Regions from separate parts of the Homo sapiens genome. Here region 2 is linked to region 1. The links come from fine-mapping of genetic effects on gene expression. Tissue or cell type: whole blood. Region 1 holds a variant in brackets; the other region holds the start of a gene. All regions are shown on one strand. Distances are between the middles of the regions.

Evidence for each region. PIP is the estimated chance that this variant, and not a neighbour inherited with it, causes the effect.
Region 2: it holds the start of KCNH2, and the variant in region 1 is fine-mapped to the expression of KCNH2 in whole blood (INTERVAL, PIP 0.95).

What each region holds. Positions count from the first base shown.
Region 1 is chr7:150,949,407-150,958,038 of GRCh38, forward strand. KCNH2 (potassium voltage-gated channel subfamily H member 2) reads right to left here. Exons shown (of 15, transcript NM_000238.4): 5 at 7,885-8,096; 6 at 3,019-3,447; 7 at 2,042-2,429; 8 at 1,515-1,714; 9 at 762-1,014. Among named protein-coding and RNA genes, the nearest start is that of KCNH2, 25 kb to the right of the region's middle. RefSeq lists enhancers at 1-219, 4,934-5,532, 8,337-8,632. The variant C/A (reference allele first, on the strand shown) is at 4,272.
Region 2 is chr7:150,972,111-150,981,438 of GRCh38, forward strand. KCNH2 (potassium voltage-gated channel subfamily H member 2) reads right to left here and starts at 6,211. Exons shown (of 15, transcript NM_000238.4): 1 at 5,728-6,211; 2 at 2,601-2,831. The coding sequence starts at 5,803. It overlaps LOC124901776 (a long non-coding RNA gene), which reads left to right and starts at 3,208. Exons shown (of 3, transcript XR_007060592.1): 1 at 3,208-3,365; 2 at 4,426-4,601; 3 at 4,735-5,245. RefSeq lists enhancers at 1-444, 3,583-4,509 and silencers at 2,346-2,415, 2,516-2,565, 2,956-3,105, 6,879-7,228.

The sequences.
Region 1 (8,632 bases):
CATTTTTTTTTTTTTTTTTTTTTTTTTACTGAAAGAACATACAGTAGTATAGCTTAGCACAGCACAGAACAGAAATGCTAGAATGAACCACATGCAGTAAGGCCCAGTGTTATGTAGTGAAACTTTGATTTTAGTTTTGTGGGGGTGTGTATTTGTGTTTGTACAGAGCTGAGAAACAAAGTCTAAAATGTCCTACCATCAACTATGGTCGAAAGAGCTTGCTATATCTGCCCTGAGGCACACAGGGCCGAGGGAAGGACAGGCAAAGGGGGAGGAAGTCCTCAGTGTCCAGACACACCAACCCACCCACTGTGCACAGGCAGGGTAGAAAGGAAGTGGGGGGAGGGGGCAGGACTCCCTTTGCTTTGGATGTGTCAAGGGGCCAGGCATGAGGCTGCAGGGAACCACATGGCCCTTAGTGAAACCAAATGCCGAGCTTCCAGGCTAGCATTTCTTCCTCTACTGCCCAGGCTAGAGGATCTAGATTTGATCCTACTTTAAGGAAGCAAAAAGTGTCTGTTTGTGGCGGATCCTGAAGGGAAGGAGAATGTGGGAACCCCAGAGTTCAGCAGCCTCACCCCACGTGGGGCTCCTCTCCATGGCCCCGCTTGGAGGGCCTGAGTTTAGGTGAATTAAAGGAGCCCAGTGACCCTGCAGGCAGTCCCAGGTCCACAGCCCCAGTGACTGCATATTCAGAAGGCTCGCACCTCTTGAGGCTGCAGAGGGCATTTCCAGTCCAGTGCCCGCCCCCCACCCCATACCCAGGATGGCCACGACGACGTCGCCCCGCAGGATCTCGATGGAGCCCCGGGAGATGAAGTACAGGGCGGTGAGCAGGTCCCCAGCATGCACCAGTGTGTCCCCTGGCGGTGCATGTGTGGTCTTGAACTTCATGGCCAGGGCCCGAAGGCAGCCCTTGGTGGCCCCTCGGAAGGGTTTGCAGTGCTGCAGCAGTGAGCGGTTCAGGTGCAGGCAGATGTCAGCCTGCAGGCACTCAGGGAAGCCCTTCAGCACCTGGGGGCAGGGTGGGGGCAGCTCAGCACACCCTCCCTTGGGACCCCCCAACCCACACTCTACTCCACCATCCCACCCCTCCATGTCAGAGAAATCTCAACCTCCAGGCCTGGGAGATCTCGGAAGCATCAGGGGGCCCAGTGTCTTGGGAAGGACCTGGGACCCCACTCCAGCTTCACCATGCCTGGCCGAGCACCCTTGGGCTCTAGACCTCCATGTTCTTATTTGTAAGGCATAGAGACCATTCCCGCCCTGGGCTGTCACAAGGATTTAACCCCATCGCCTATGTGACATATACCTCCCACCCCAAAAGGGGAGCTCTCCAGGGAAGGGGTTCCAAGGGCTTCCATTTCCTCATGGGCAAAAAGGGGCAACGTGCCTCCAGGGTCCTTACTACTGACTGTGACCGCCTGAGACTTGTTTGCTGTGCCAAGAGGTTCCCCTCTGCCACCCCACTCTTCCCAGCCTGCCACCCACTGGCCACGCTCTGGTGGCCTCACCGCGTTCATGTCGATGCCGTTGGTGTAGGACCAGGCGTGCTGGAAGTACTCCTCGAGGCGCTGGCGCAGGGGATTGGGGATCTGGTGGAAGCGGATGAACTCCCGCACCCGCAGCATCTGTGTGTGGTAGCGGGCTGTGCCCGAGTACAGCCGCTGGATGATGGCCGACACGTTGCCGAAGATGCTAGCATACATGAGGGCTGGGGGCGTGGGCACGTGGGGCCGTCAGCCTCTGCAGGGACCCCACCCACCCACAGGGACCCTGCTCAGGCCCCGCACCAGGTCAGTGTCTCAGTCTCAGCGTCGACATGCCCACGAGACGCCCTTGTACATCTGCGCTCCAGCACACCCCACCCTTCAGTAGTCCCCGCCCTGGTGACCCAGCCCCCAAACCATGTCACGATGGTGGCCCCTGGAGTCTCTAAGTTCCAGGGCCTCACTCTGGCCCGGCTAGCAGCCTCAGTTTCCTCCAACTTGGGTTCCTCCACCGTGGGCTCTCCCCGCCGCCCGCCCCTGGGCACACTCACAGCCAATGAGCATGACGCAGATGGAGAAGATCTTCTCTGAGTTGGTGTTGGGAGAGACGTTGCCGAAGCCCACACTGGTGAGGCTGCTGAAGGTGAAGTAGAGCGCCGTCACATACTTGTCCTTGATGGAGGGGCCGCCCAGGCCGCTGCTGTTGTAGGGTTTGCCTATCTGGTCGCCCAGGTTGTGCAGCCAGCCGATGCGTGAGTCCATGTGTGGCTGCTCCATGTTGCCGATGGCGTACCAGATGCAGGCTAGCCAGTGCGCGATGAGCGCAAAGGTGCACATGAGCAAGAACAGCACGGCCGCGCCGTACTCTGAGTAGCGATCCAGCTTCCGCGCCACGCGCACCAGCCGCAGCAGCCGCGCAGTCTTCAGCAGCCCGATCAGCTGGGGGACAGGGAAGGGGCACATTCCGTTGATGGGGCAAGGGGGGCAAGGGAGGAGGGGAGGTGCTGCGGCCCTCAGAGCGAGCATCAGAGGTCAGATCCCCAAAGACTTCCTAGACCCTCCTCCTAAGAGGTGAAGCCCACACTGGGCCCAGCACAGGTGTCTCATTAATCTTAGTGCTAGCTTTGGGACAGAGGCAGCCCCCATAGTGTGGATGAGGAAACAGGGGCACTGACAGGTGCAGTGATCACCCTAGGGTGCCTGCCCACTCCCACCAGCTTCTAGGGCACTTTGGTGACGCTACAAAATAATGGCCCCTTGGGATGGACGAATTAGAAAAAAAGGTGTCCTGTGTGGCCCTCTGCAACCTGCGAGGAGCTTGTGTGGAGAGAAGGAGCATAGGTTTGCTGGGGTACCCACCTTGCCTCTGCAGCTGCCTTGCCACCATGTCTCTCTCCCACTGTCTTTCTCTCTTTCTCTCTCTCTCTCTTTTTCTCTGTCCTCCTCGCCACCCCCTCCACCCCACTACCTCCCACCACATTCCTGGCCTCTCCTCTCCCTACACCACCTGCCTCCTTGCTGACCCCACCTCCTCAGAGCCAGAGCCGAAGATGAGCAGGTCGAAGGGGATGGCGGCCACCATGTCGATGAGGAACCAGCCCTTGAAGTAGTGGACGGCGATGCGGCCGGGGTGGCTGACCACCTCCTCGTTGGCATTGACGTAGGTGGTGCGGAAGTTGATGAGGATGTCCACAATGAACATGATGTCCACGATGAGGTCCACCACAGCCAGCGGCTGGCAGGCGTAGCCACACTCGGTAGCAGGCGGGCCTTCTTCCGTCTCCTTCAGCAGGAAGGCAGCCGAGTAGGGTGTGAAGACAGCCGTGTAGATGACCAGCAGCAGGATGAGCCAGTCCCACACGGCCTTGAAGGGGCTGTAATGCAGGATGGTCCAGCGGTGGATGCGCGGTGCCTGCAGCTTGTACTCAGGCAGCACGTCGGCGCCCAGGGACAGGACCTGCACCCGGGGAAGGCGGAGGTGTGGGTGAGGCAGGCCATGGGACCTCGGGGGCAGGAGCGATGACATCTCTGCCGGGGCCAAGCAGAATGAGGAGGAGGCCAAAAAAAGCTTCCATCAGAATGCCCACCCCTCAGCCAAGCGACCACAGCAAATGGCCACCCCCAGGTTTGGGCATCATGGTTCCCAAAATGCCACACAGCACAGGACTGGCTCCAAACAGTTCCAACATTTCCCGGCAGACGTGGATTCAGGCCACTCGGCAGGAACACCCAGTGCTGCTCCCCGCCGGCAATGCAGATGCAGACCTGCCACTGTGACTGCCCTGAGACGCTGGCCCACACACCCAACCACACACGCCATAGTCTCAGACCGGAAAGGGTTCCAAGGACAACAGCTCCCAACCTGGGCAGTGGCCCCAGGAGCCATAGCCCCAATCCACTGACTGGTAGTCACTGCAGTTCTTACCAGCCCCTCTTCATGCCACAGGCCCGAGGACACCAGGCAACCAGGATGGAGAAAGACCAAGACACTCCCACCCTCCACTCGCACACCTCGCTCCCTCAGCCCCCTCTCCACACAGGTCCGGGACAGCCCACAGTCCTCATCCTCCCACCCTCTTACAAAGGGACAAAGAAGACATAGCCCAGCTGGGAGGAGATGGCACCCAACTTATACAGAGGGACGTGCACACAGGGACTGCTCAGCAGTGACACACACAGCCCCTGTACCAGCTCACACTCACACTCTGCCTCCTCCACAGTCATCAGACAGAGGCAGGCTGGCCATCCGGACCCGGTGACAGCAGGCACGTCCCTCTTGCT[C/A]CCAAGGCAAACTAAGAAGAGCTCCGGCCAGCTTCTCCACACTGTCCCAGAAGCTTCTGGGTCTCCCTAGAATCCTCTCTCAGGCATGCAGCTCAACCCAAAAGCCCCCTCCCCAAGCTCTCCCTGCCATCCCTGGGCAGCCAGCTGAACCCAAGGCCTTGCCCAGCCCCCATGAATTCCAGAGGTGCTGGCCCTGCTCCCAGAAGCACTGACTCCCAGGCCCCCACACCCTCAGGCTTTTGGGTTGGGGAGGCCATAGTTGATGAGTCCCAAAGACTCCCCTTCATACTCAAGCTGGGCTTGCCCAAGACACCTTCACAGATGGCGCTGCTGGGAGAACATCTCCTTAGAGGAAATAACTAGAAGTCAAGACGGGTCATAGTCAAAGATTTGACCACCCTGGGGTGGACACAGGGCCTCCAGCGGTACCAGATGGGCTGCGGGAGCAGCTGAGGCCTAGGGCAGGGAGGGAACACATGGACAGGCTCACAGGCTCCATTTCTGCTCTGTCTGCTGTCTAAGTGCCCAGCTCCTTAAGGCAGAGAGCAAATGCCCATGGGTGGGTGGCCCTTCAGTGATCAAGTGGGGACTGAAAAAAAAAAAAGAAAACACTGGCCAGGCCCCTGCTGATAAGGGGGCAGAAGAAGGTAGCTGCCCCTGGACAGGGCTCTTCTCTGTGCCTGAGAGGTCAAGCCTCTGGGCGGAGGTGTCAGGACCACCCCTAACAGCAGTGACCCTACCCCTGAGTCTGCACACAGCATGAGCAACACTGCCCCAGGGTACAAACTCACACGTGCATGGGGCACACCTGACAGGGGCCAGTCCCAGCTCTGCAGCCACCAGCTCACCTATGGCCTTGGGCCAGGTCTGTCCCCCCAGCCTGTTGTCCTATAGAATACTGAAGCTGGCTTGCTTAAGCCAAACCCTGACTCCTCAGCTGTGGGTGGGAAGACCTACCTGTACCTGTCCCCCAGCTGGAAAGAGTGTATGAGCCAAGGCAGAATGTGCAGATGTGGGGTGGTGGGGGCAGGGATGGGATTCCCAGACTTAGCCCTGAGCCACCTCCCACTCCTCCTCCACTGTCGGCCCAAGCCTGCCCCAGGCTGACAGAAGAGCGGCTGGATGGCTCCCAGGAGGTCACAGAGTAGTGCATGGCCCAGCCACCACACCTCGGCTGCCCATGAAGAGATGAGCCAGGTGCCTCAGCCCAGCGCGCCCTCACCACCCACACAGTGGCTTCCGCACATTCCAGCCTCCTCGACCCCCCAAAACAGCACAAGCCTCCTTTGCCCACAGGGTCCAACCCCAGCACACAGAGCAAAGGAGCCCCGGCGCCTCCATGCCAGGCCCAGCTGTCGCCTGCCGGCTTCTCCTGGTCCTGCCCATGGGCTCCTTTGTCCCACTCCGCCTCCCCACCATCTCTCTGGGCACCCATCTCATTCCTGTCATCTCCCCACTTTGCATTTTGAGCTCCAGGACTGTGGGCCATGGCAGGCACAGGAGCGGGGAAGTCCCAGCAACGGAAACTCTGTAAGCCCAGCCTGGGAGGGAATGAGAACAGGAGCCAGGCGCGGGTGAGCAGGGCCAGGCCCCACGGCTCCCAAAGCTTCCTACTTCCCAGCAGCCCTCTCCCCAGCCTGGAGTCAGAGCCCTTGGGCCAGCCACCTGCCTCAGTGTGCCGGCCCCAGAAAGAAGAGGAAGGACCGGGTGTCACCTACCTCCTGGGCCACGAGGCTGGAGATGCGCACGGCCCGCCTCACCCGGCCTTTCTGGGCCCTGGGCCGCAGAGCCCCTGTCCTGCTCGCCTTCCCGGCTGGGGCCGCCATGGAGGACTTGGCTCCCTGCAGCCTGCCTGCCCTGGGGCCTGAGGGCCCGGCCACTGCCTCACCTGCACCCCAGCAGCAGTCCCAGCCCAGGCTGCACCCCCGAGGCTGGCCGACTGGCAACCAGAGCAGCCCCTGGCATGAAGCCAGGGTGGTTGTGGCTGGGCCCCAGGGCTGGGGTCACCCTGGCAGTAAGCGTGGGCAGCAGCCTGCCTGGCTCGAGCTGCCCATGGCCCCGTGGCGTGGGCCCTGCTGCCAGGGTGCCGTGCTCTGCCCGCCCGCCAGCCCAGCAGCGGCCGCACTCGGAACCTCAGCTCCTCCAGCCGGCCCCTCCTTCTACCAGGTCCCCACCCCCACCCCGCCACACTAGGCTCCCCCGCCCCGCCGGTGCCCAGCCAGCGGCCCCCTCCCCCGCAGCCCGCCCAGGCTCCTGCAGCGGCGCTCCCGCAGCCTGAGCCCCTCCCCCTCCGCCAGCAGCCGGGCCTGTCACCGCAGATTAATGGTCTCCCTGACACCCCCGCCCAGCCGGTCCAGTGCTGAGCCAGCCAGAGTCAGACAGAGACACCCAGAGATGGAGAGACTGCTAGTGACTGGCAGGAACACACACGCCTGCCGACACATACAGGCGCACATGCACAGACCCACCGCAACTCACGGGCACATGCAGCGGGCACAGGAGCAGGGCAGATGCCAGGGGCTCAGGTGGGAACCAAGAGAGAAGCAAGGGAGGAGGAAGAGAGGGGTAGGTGGCCAGATAAGGGCCTGGGGTGAGGGGGAATGCTCTGGAGTCAAGGCCAGTGGGCTGGAGACCTGGCAGGGACCCAGAAAGCCAGGCGGTGGGAGCAGGGCCAGGAGCCCGCCGAGGTAGCAGGGCAGCTCCCTTACATGAGCCAACCCAGGCAGCTGCTGTGGAAGGGGCAGGAGGGAACAGCTTGGGACAGGAGTCCTCCACATTATCCCAGGCTTCTCACTCACTGCAGAGATCTGCACTCCTGACCCACCCACCCCCAGCCCCCAAAGGCTAGGATAAGGTGTCGGGTGGATGAAGCCATGGAGGGGTCGCAGGTCCTCTTGCTGCCAGGAGGACCCCAAACCCAGGAGGGGACAGAAGACCAGGCTGGCTAATGCCCCCAAGGCTGAGGGGTCTTCTCTGGCCCAGGATTCAGGGACCTGACCCTTCCATATCTTTGTACCCACCACCTCCCTATGAGAAGAAAACTTGCTTCTCCCATGCTTTAGGGACATAGTTGGGCCCCTCGAGGCCATCCTGGCCATCCCCACAGGACTGAGGCCCACCCTCTGCCTGGCACATCACCTTGGCCTGGAAGAATTAGGACCCTCCTGTCCTTGACCTCTGTGACCCCTTCTCATTTGAAGCCTCCCAGTTGGCTTGGCCCCTAGTACTTCCTTCACACACCCTGCAGCCAGACCTTTCATGTCCCTCAGGCCGCCTTCCCCCCTTGCTACTGGCCCTGTCATGTCCCCAGCCTCAACTGCCCTGTCCTCACCCTGTGCCCCGAAGGCACGCACCCCATCCACCCGACCTCCGCTCTGCCATTCCCAGCCCTTTACCAGACCTCTCCAGTCCCCTCTCCAGGACTTCTCAGACTGTCCCCTCTCCCCCCATCGCAGCTCTGGAATAGATTGCCAACCCCAACCCTCAGGTCTGCCTCCCTCCAAGAGGCCCTCACTGGCTAGCCCCCTCCACCCGGCTCTGGATCACAGCCCACTCCCACCCCCTCTCCAAGCTCCTCCAAGGTGAGAGGAGAGCCCGGCCGCTGGGCGCCTACCTGGGTGACCTTCTCAGTGACATTGTGGGTTCGCTCCTTTATCTTAGGTGCTATGATCTCACGGTCACTGGTGGGCGAAGCCAAGAAGGGGTCGCCCTTGAGGTCCACAAAGTTGAGGGTGATTTGGGGAATCTTGCTAATGGTGCGGTAGCGCACGAGGTCGGAGTCCGAGGTGGAGTTGAGCAAGCCGCTGCGCAGTGGGTGCATGGCCCCTAGGTGGAGAGGCAGCGTGGTCAGGCCAGCAGCCCAGGGCCCCAGGCCAGGCAGGCCACCCATAGATCGAGAGTGGAGACCAGGCCCTGCACAGTCAGGAGTCCATGGGGTCAGCTCAAGAGACCAGGGGAGTCACAAGAAACAAGAGAGGTCAGACCCCTGTCCCACTCTAAGGAAGCAGCCAGGAGACAGCCCTGAGACCAGGAAGAGGAAGAGGAAACGGTCTGCTCCAGGACGCTGGCAGGCAGGGGGCCAGGTGGTGTTCGGAGGCTGGGCACGTCTCCTGCCCAGGGCATCCCTGCTCCAGGCCGTCCCGGGACAGCCAGCTCCAGGGGCCCACCAGGGCTCTGGGAGTGGAAGAATGTAATGGGATGAATGGACATTTAATAGCGCAACAAGCCACTTAATGGAATTAAATAAGTGCTTAATGGGATTTCCATCTCCCAGGCACCCAGGACGTAGTGAAAAGGTCAGAAGCCGAGGGCCCAGAATGCAGCAAGCCTGGCAGCAGAAGAAGCGTGGGCTGGGGCGGAAC
Region 2 (9,328 bases), 23 kb after region 1:
TCTAGCCTCCCCACCTCCCAGCAGTCCCAGCAACTAAATAATGGGGCTGTCTGGCTCCAGGCCCTGACACTGCGCAGAGCAAGGCTAGAGGCACCAACACAGCACAGCTGTCCACGGCGGCGCCTGCCAGCAGAAGGCTCCACCTCCTGCCCAGCTCCCCCTACCCGAGGCTGGCCCAGGCAGAGACCCTGAGAAAGGCCTGGACAGAAACAAGGGGTGGCGCAGGCATTCCTCACCTCCGCCTCCCTACCAGGCCCATGTGTGAGTACACACACAGGCACGCACACACGCAGCCCAAGCCAGGTCCCGGGGATCACAGGAGGGACTGAGTGTTTCAAGGCAGAAGAAGCGGAGGCTGAGGAAATCTGTCTGCATCACCCCAGGCCTAGAATGCCAGGATACATGGGGTCCTAGGTGGCTGAGTGCCAGGCCAGCCTGTTGGCCAACAGGAGACACCTGAGCCCCGTGGAAACTAGGTGAGAGTGAAGAAGGGGACAGACAGAGATTGCTGGCACAGAGTTTTCTGGGTCACAGCCCCATTTTTTGGAGTTGTAACCTGGAGAGGGGACAAGTTTGAACTTGGGCTGGGGATCTGGGTTCTAATCCCACTCCTTCCACTGATTCACTGGTCATCAGACCTCTGCTTCTCCGTCCTTCCACCTGCAAGTCGAATGGGTTGGATTAGGTGATCCCACAATAACTCCTCTGCAGAAGGGGGCCCATAGCCATCCTCTCCAGAAGGGGCCAGCCTAGACTGGGAGGGAGGGCCAGCTCCACCTAAGAGCACTCCACACATACCACAGCCAAAGGAAAGAGCCCTCAGCCGCTGCTGCCAAGAGGCCAAATCCCCAGCACAGCTACATCGTAGTGGGACTGGCACCGTGTTTACAGAGCACGGCCCGTTGCAGGCACTCTCTATGAAAGCTCAGCACCCTTGTGAAGGTCCAAAGCAAGGCACGTTATCCCAGAAGTAGAAACAGGCCCAGGGAAGTCAACCAACTTGTCCAGTAGTGTATAATTTCCAGCATTGTCTTAGACACAAACCCAGGACTTATGGGTTCATATTCTTTTCAGTACACCTGTGGTTGGCAAACTTTTACAATAAAATTTCACATGAGATAATGTACAGCATACAGATAGACCTGCAACTACCTGGTGTCATTTTCAATATATGACAGACAGAACAGAGCGCACAGGGCTCCGGTCAGACAGATGTGGGCTCCGTTCCCAACTGCTATTTTCTAGCTGTGTGACTGTGTGAACTTCAGTTTCTTCATCCCCCAAAATGAAGACAACAGTAGTGTCTACCTCCCTGGGTTGTGAAGAGTGCCTGAGATAAGAGAAGTAAAGCATTTGGCCCAGTGTCTAGCCCCTAGAAACCATCCACTGCCTTCAGGGTTTGAGTCTAGTCTCACAGCCCCTGCCTCCTGCCAGTTAGAACCCTGATTTGCTGTGAGCGAACCTTCTTCCACAGGGTGCAGGGACCATGCCCCCTCTAGTGCCGTCCAGTGATGCCACAGACTGTGCACGCCTGCAAAAGCACAGCCTGGAGGATGCAAAGCTTTGCAGGGCCACCCCAGCCAACCCTGAGCACACAGGGCTGGCACATGGGGCTGGCTGGCCTGGTCCCAAACAGAAAGCAGAGCGTGCTCACTGTCTACAGCAGACAAGCTCCCTGAGGGCAGGAGCCTCATCTGTCCTGCCCATCTCCAAGAGCCTAGTGCCTGCCAGGCTCACAAGGGTTGAGTCAATGCTTATGGGACACACGCTAGGAAGCAGCAAGGTTTGCACGCGTTCCAGAGCCGCCTCTGCAGCCGGATTCTGCCCACAGGACCCCAGTCCTCCTGCTCTGCCCGCCCTGACCAGAGCCCACCCCAACAGGGCATTCACGGTGTGGGAGCAGCCCCACCCCGGGCTCTGTTTATCCGCTCTCCGGAAGCCCAGAGCAGCTGTGCTGGGAGGCGGTGGCTGAGTAAAGACACCTGGCGCAGGAGAGGGTGGCAGGGCGGGGCGCTCGACAGCTGAGACAAAGGGAACTGAGGTTGCGGGGAGAGGCACGCACCTCCCCCAGGTGCTGCTGAAGCGCAGGGCAGGAGGGGGGCAGCAGAGACAGCCAGAGTCCTGCAGCCCTCCTGTCCCTCCATGACATCTCCCAGACCTGTCACCTGGCAGCAACTGCCCTAAGGTAGATAGGGGCCTGTGCCCGGATGTCAGCGCACAACTGCCAATCTGACCTTTAACCTCCATCCACGCACGTACCTGCCATCCCAGCTCGGTCTAACTCTAGTCCAACTTGCTCTACGTGCCCACACCTGCCCAGGGAAAAAAAGGACCAGAGGAGCCAGACCCACAGCCTAGCAACTCCTTTGCCCTCCTGAAAACCATCTCAGCAGAGTGAGGCGCAGGCCCCGGAACCGCGCCTCCCACAGGCACACCGCAGGGCCCCCGCCCGCGTCACACCCCCACAGAACCCTGCCCGGGCTCGGGGCGTTCTCCAGCCGCCCCCACACCCCCACACCCCCACGCACCCTGCCCCTCGCCGTGGTCCCGCCCCTCTTGACCCCGCCCCTGGTCGTGGCCCCGCCCCGGCCCGCTCCTACCATCTTTCCGGTAGAAGGCGATTTCCACTTTGCGCTCCTCGGCGCCCAGCAGTGCCTGCGCGATCTGCGCGGCAGCGCGGCGCTGCGTGCGCGGCCCGTGCAGGAAGTCGCAGGTGCAGGGTCGCTGCATCACCTCGGCCCGCGAGTAGCCGCACAGCTCGCAGAAGCCGTCGTTGCAGTAGATGACGGCGCAGTTCTCCACCCGAGCGTTGGCGATGATGAACTTACGGCCTAGGGGGGCGGGGAGGAGAGTGCGCGTGAGCGGGGACCCCAGCCTCCGGGACTCCCAGCCCTTCCCCACATTCTCCACTCACACAGCCGCCCGGGGACTCCCCGCCACAGGAAGCATGGCTGGGACTGGGGTCCCAGCAGGGGGCGAACGCAGCTGTGCGTGTGCCCCGATACAGGTGCCTGGCCGGCCGGGCCGCGCGGCGCGCCCCCTCCTCCGCCTGGCCCGCGGGCGGGCTGCGTGGCTTCCCCCGGGCAGGCCGCCAGCAGCCCGCCGCCTCCTCCATGCCCGAGGCTGAGGCCAGCCTGGCGGGTGTCAGCAACGCGTGTCAGCAGCCGCGGCGGAGGGATAAACACTGGGCCTAGAAAGGGAGCCTGGGAAAGGCCAGAGATGGCGGCCAGGATTCCCTTTGCATCGGCTCTCTGGATTCTGCTTTTAATTTCCCTGCTCTCCAGACTGGGGGGCGCTCCCTGAGCCACTCCTTATCCTGAGGCTCCCTAGGAAATCACTCCCCGATTATCTGAGGATCCTACCAGGTCAGTACCCCCTAGAACTTCTGCACACCACCCCCGCCCCAAGGGCAGTCAGGAGCTGAGGGGTGGGTGTGCCAGAGAGGATGAGGGAAGTTACACGTTGAACACCTAAGGACGCTGCATCTCATTAGGTCCTCTGACAACCCCATAAGGTAGGTGTTATTATCCTCCTTTTATAGATGAAGAAACCAAGGCTCCAGAGAAGTTCGGCACCATGCCCAAGTCTTGCAGCTTGTAAATGATAGAGCCAGCTTTTGAACCTTGGTCTGGCAGAGGCAGAAGAATAAGCTGAGGGTCACAGGCAGAAGCCCAAGGTCATAGGAAGCAAAGAGAGGGACCTGCAGCTCCAAACCCTGGACACACCTGGAGCCTGGGCGGGGCCTGAGACTTTGGCCCCACTTGTAGGAAAACAGACCCAAGAAAGGGGACCTGCCCAGGGATGTGAGGCCTTCCTCAGTTTGGCCTCATCCTGGATGAGCACCCCCATGGTTCCATTTCTGCCAGACTTGGCTCCCTGACTCCAGGCCTGCCCGGAGAGCCAGGCTGGCGAGTGAGCAGCAGGCAGGCAGCAGCCTCACTTGTGCCAGGCAAGATGCTCCTGGGATAAGAGCTTTTTATAAACAGAAGTTTCCGGCCACTTTGGCCTGTAATGCTGGGGCTTTCAGTAGCAGTTGGAATTCTCCCCCTCCCTTCCCCTCCCCTCCCCAGCAAGCATAGCCCTCAGGTTGCAGCCCTAGGCAATCCTACGTGCAAAGCTGGGCTGCAGCAGGGCACCCTGAGATAGGCCCAGGCCATCAGGACTTGGCCTCCTCCCACCTTTCTCGATTCTCCCTTCCCCTGGCCCCCAGAAAGTTGCCTTTTGGAACTGGTTCATCTTTTGGCCAGTTCCCAAGGCCCCCCAGACCTCCCAGGCAGCCATCAATTCCAGGAGTCAGGGTTTCCTGTCACCTGAAAAGACCCCCTAACTCGGCCTCCAGCTCTGCCACAGTCCAAGGCAGTCCAGAGGCCCAGCCACACACCCCAGCTTCATAGAAGAAAAACCACCCCTTGTCCTCTCTCCCAGGCTGGGGAAAGAAGAGCAAGTTTCTTCGAAGGCATGCCCCACCCCACCACACACCCTTCACTGAGATCCTGGAATACAGGGATGGGACAGAAAGCCTGCCCCTCCTCCACAGACCTGGAACCTGAGACCCAAAGAGGGAAGAGTCACTCAAGGTCACATGGCAGTCAGTGGCAAAGGTAGGGCTAGAATCCAGCACCCCCCCCCACATCCATCCCAGCCTCCTCGTAGGCCCGCCCACAGCCTCCCCCTGGGCCCACCCCCACCTCTCAGGGAGGCCCTCAACCAGTGTCATTGTCTCCACCCCCTCAGGATCATCTTGTTCCTCCGCTTCACACAATACTGACCATCGGACTGACCCCTCCTTCCCCCAACCACCGTTACAAGCACGCGTTGTCCTGTGCTCACAGGGTCATGGACAAGGAATGTCATCCTCTCCCAACTCCCAGGGCCCTTGGCAGTCACACCCACTGTGGCTCATGCAGCCTTAGGGACAGGCACATGAATGCTGCCCACCCCCAGGACATTTGCCTAATCTGGGACCCTTCTAGAAGCCTCCCTACCAGGCAGGCATTAGGGGTGCTGTACTCCCGGTCCCCATAAGGGAATTAGGTGACAGTCTCCAGGGCAAGAAAACCCACAACTTGGGGGTACCACAGGGAGCTGCTTACCCTCAAAGCCCAGCTCTAGCCCCAGGACACCCTGTCTCCACAGAGCCCACAAGCTCGCAGCCTTGTCAAAGACACCTCCCCACCGCCCATACAGGGTCTAACTCACGGGTGACACATGGGCTCAGGGTTATATACACACGGCACACACAAGAAGAGATTATGAGCTGACCCTGCATCCACGGCTTTTCAGTCCCTCCGGCACAACACAGTCAAGATCTGGCAAGACCAGTGTGCGCGCTGGACTCTCGGGATCCCAGGGTTTGGGTCGTACACACTCTTATGCCCTTGCACACAGCCCCATCCACGTCCACGCACCCAGAGTTGGGGACACCTGCACACTCCATCCCACATCCCTTCCCTGCACACTCAGCGTGTCACACACACTCCGATCCCAAAAGCCTGAGCTGAGTTTCCCGCCCCAAGCCCCAACCCCAAACCCTTTGGCCCGGTGCCCACGGCCCCGGTGCACCAAGCCTTGCCCCCGCCGTCCCCTCGCCAAAGCCTGGGGCCCACCAGGCCCCATTGACTCGCACTTGCCGACGCACACGGCCCGGGCACGCCCCCCCATCCACACTCGGAAGAGCTCGGCCCGCCCCCAGAGCCCCCTCCCCGCTCAGCCCCCTCCCCCACTCACTCTGGCCCTCAAACTTGCGGATGATGGTGTCCAGGAAGGTGTTCTGCGGCGCGACGTGGCCCCTCCGCACCGGCATCCTGAGCCCATGGGCGGGCCGGGCGGGCCCCCACCCACCCCGGCCCGGCCCGGCCCAGCACTAGGCTTCGGGTGGCCCGGCCGGGCCGTGGTCCCCGCACCCCGCGGCCAAGCCGAGCACGGGCGCGGCCAAGACTGGACTGCGGGCGCCGGGTCCTCGCTCGGCTCCCGGCTCCCCGCTCCGGACCCCGGGCCCGGCCTGGAGCCGCCTGAGCGCGAGCCGCCCGCCGCCGGCACACCTGTCTGCCGGCCCCCGCCGAGCCGCGGGGCCCGCTCCGCCGCGTCCCCGCGCTGCGCTCCGCCCGCCCGAGCCCCGGACTCCTGGCTCCCGCCTGCCACCGCGCCGACAGCCGCTCCAGCGCCCGCGGCTCGGGCAGCGCCTGCGGCTCGGCCCGGCCGCGGAAGGGTTAATGCGGCGCGCGCCCCTCCGGCTCCGGCCCCCGCCTCCCGGCCCCCTCCCGCCTGCCGCGCGCCCGCAGCACCGCCCTCTCCCCCCCCCATCCCGCCCCACCGCGCGCGCCCGACCTTCCCATTGGCTGAGCCGCGCCGAGTGCTCCCCCAACGCCAGCCCCTCGCTCTGCCAAGGAGCCCCTGGGACTCGCGCGCCCAGAAGAGGGGGAAGGGACCCTTAGGCAGGGGAAACCGTGAGGACAGGTGCCATGGCCGGCTTGTAGGCGGCCGGGATGGGGGAAGGGATTCCACCCCCACCCCAGATTAGCGACTAAGAAACCTGATTTGAAGGGAAACGGCGGGTCCTTATGCCCTGGTTCCCCACCACGCCGAGCACTGGCTTGGTATACACAGCACGCGCTCAGTGCCTACTGTGGGTGACCGGGGCAACGCCTGGACCCTCGAAGACGAGCCCGGAGTCAAGGGAGACCCTGGAAATAGGAAAAGCAAGACAATCTGAAGGCCCCAGAGCAGCAGAGCTCTGAAATAAGGGAGGGTTAAACTTAGAAGGGGCACGCCCCCTGCCCCAACACACACACACACACACACACACACACACACACACACATACACACACACACACACACACACACACACACACACATACACACACACACACGGAGAGAGAGAGAGCCCTCTGTGGGGCTCTGCATAGGAGCTGCACAGAGAGGGACATTCTGACAGCAGTTGCGGCCTCCTAGCTGCAGGATCAAAGAGAGGTCCCTGAGCGCGAGGTTCCAACCAGGGGATCCCCGGGTGCGAGCGGCCCGCCCTCCCCCGGCAGCCCGGGGCCAGCCTTGCACGCCCAATCGGCGGGCTCGGGGCCCTGCGGCGGCGGCCACGGCCCAGCCCCTCGGAAAGCCCTGGCCTAGCCGCAGGCCCCTCCCCCCGGCCAGCTGGCTCGCTCCAGCTGCGGCTCCCTTATTTAGGCAAGGAGGCCTAGGGATGCTCAAGGGCAGGCGGGGTGTCTGCCCCGCCGCCTGCTCATCGCCTGCTTGCGTCTGAGTGAGGGTCTCCGGGCGCGGTGTCCTCGGACTTAGCAGTCAGGCAGGGCCCCGGGAAGGCCAGGGCGGGGAGGCGAGTGTTGACAGCTGAGTGGGCGGGCGGGGAGGGAGGAGTCGCAGCTGAACAGCCGAGGGTCCCCTCCCTGCAGCCGGATCAGAGACCTGTCTAGATGGATGGGGCCATGTGGGGGCTCCTGAGGGCTTGCAGCTGCCTCTGTCCTTGGAGCAGGGGCTGGGTCTTGTCACCAGCGAGAACCATCATGGGGGGAGGGGAAGAACAAAGGGCAGGGAAGGAATCGGAGTCCCGAAGGAGGAAGGCGCAGAAAACTGTCGTCGTGAGACCACCCTACCCGGACTCTCACCTTCCACCCAGGAGCACAAAGATGCAAACACTGGGGCCAAATGGGGCCACTGGCCAGCAGATGACACTCTTTTTTATTTGCTGGTGGGTGGGCAGTGACTCAGGGAGGCAGCCAGTGGGAGAGAAGGAGGTGGCTCCACAGCTGATGCTAAAAAAGTCCAGAGGCTCTTGCCTGTGCAGTTATTCCTCAGGCCCTCTCCACTGCCAGCAGTTTCCTCACTCACCCCCCCGGGGGCCCAGGGCCTTCCACAGCACAAGCTCCTCCTTGGTGTAGCATTTGGCATCAGGTGCATCAACACATCTGGGTTCCGGGTAGAACCTAGTCCACGACTGGCCCAGCCCCCGCCACGCCCCAAGGCCACCCCTGGCTGCTGGGTTGCCTACCATGAATCCAGGATGATTCATGTGTGAGTGAAGTGTCCTCCTGTCCAGGCCAGGGGATGGAGAGAAAGTGAGCAAAGGCCAGCAGCTGAGAATGGGCATGGGAGGGCAAGAAGGGAAAGGGACATCTGTAGCCTCCCCCTCTCTCCAGACCAAGGGAGAGGGAGAGCCAGGCCCTGAAGGGAAGGAGCCACTCATCTGAGCTGGCCAGCTGTCCTCCACTCCTGTACCCGTGTTGCTGGGACAGGCCTCTGCTCTTATCCCAAAGGGAAGACAGGAGTCAGAGGAGCCCTTCATCCTCCCAAACAGAGAGGAGCCCAGGCACGGGGTAGCCCTCCTTCTGTGCACAGAGGCAAGAAGAGAGCTGTTCCCTCAAGCTGAGGAGAGACAGATCTCTCCCTCTCTCCCCCCAGCCCACTCCACATACTCAGAAGTCAAAGCTGAATGTAGATTTCTGACTTCCTTGGAGGCTCAGGGTAGAGCCTGAAGGCAGACCCACTTAGCCGCCCCCACACTCAAGAATTGAGCTGAGGAAGAGAAACGGTGAGAGGGGGCAAGCTCTCCCCAAAGCAACATTTCTGGGCCTCAGATGAGCTGATGGAGAAGCCCCCACTGCCTTCAACTTCCCACCTCTGCTACCCCCAGATCTGGGACAAAGAGAAAAGTGCCCAACCCTAATACCAAGAGCTGGGCTGTTAAGCCTCTAGAATCTGCCCCACCCCCATCTCAGCTCCAAGAGCCATTTCAGAGACCATTCCTGGGAAGAGCTCTCCCGCACCCTGCCTGTGACTGAGGGAACAGAGAGGCTACAGTGAGATATCCAGGCTCCTCCCAGCTCCCAAAAAGAAACAATTTAGGGAGAAAAGTCTGCAGAAAGCATCCTACCCACCCTGCTCTCTGCTCCTGCTCAGTCCGAAGGCATGGAGCCAGGACATCCTGGAAGGAGAAAGAGAAATGGAAGCCCACTCTGCCAGAGGTCCCCCAAGGAGCGGGCCAGGCAAGACACCACCAAAGTCAGGCCCAGGAGAGCCTGGGGTTACCCACAGGGGATTGGGAAGCAGTTCCAGTCGGCTGGGCACAGGAGAGACAGGTTACAGAGCAATGGTTCCTGGGAAACCCTGGGGAAGGAAGAACAGAGTGAGCAGGTCCCTTGATGCTTGAACACGGTGGGTTTTTTTTGTTTTTCTGTGCAACTGGGTCCCCAGAATAGAGATTTTTTTCAGATGTGAACTGGAGTTGGAGAAGAAAAGAATCAAAGAAACAGCATGTTTCCCCTCCAGAAGTGGATGATCAGGGCTTATTGATAGAAAGAAGGGAAGTAGGAAGGAAA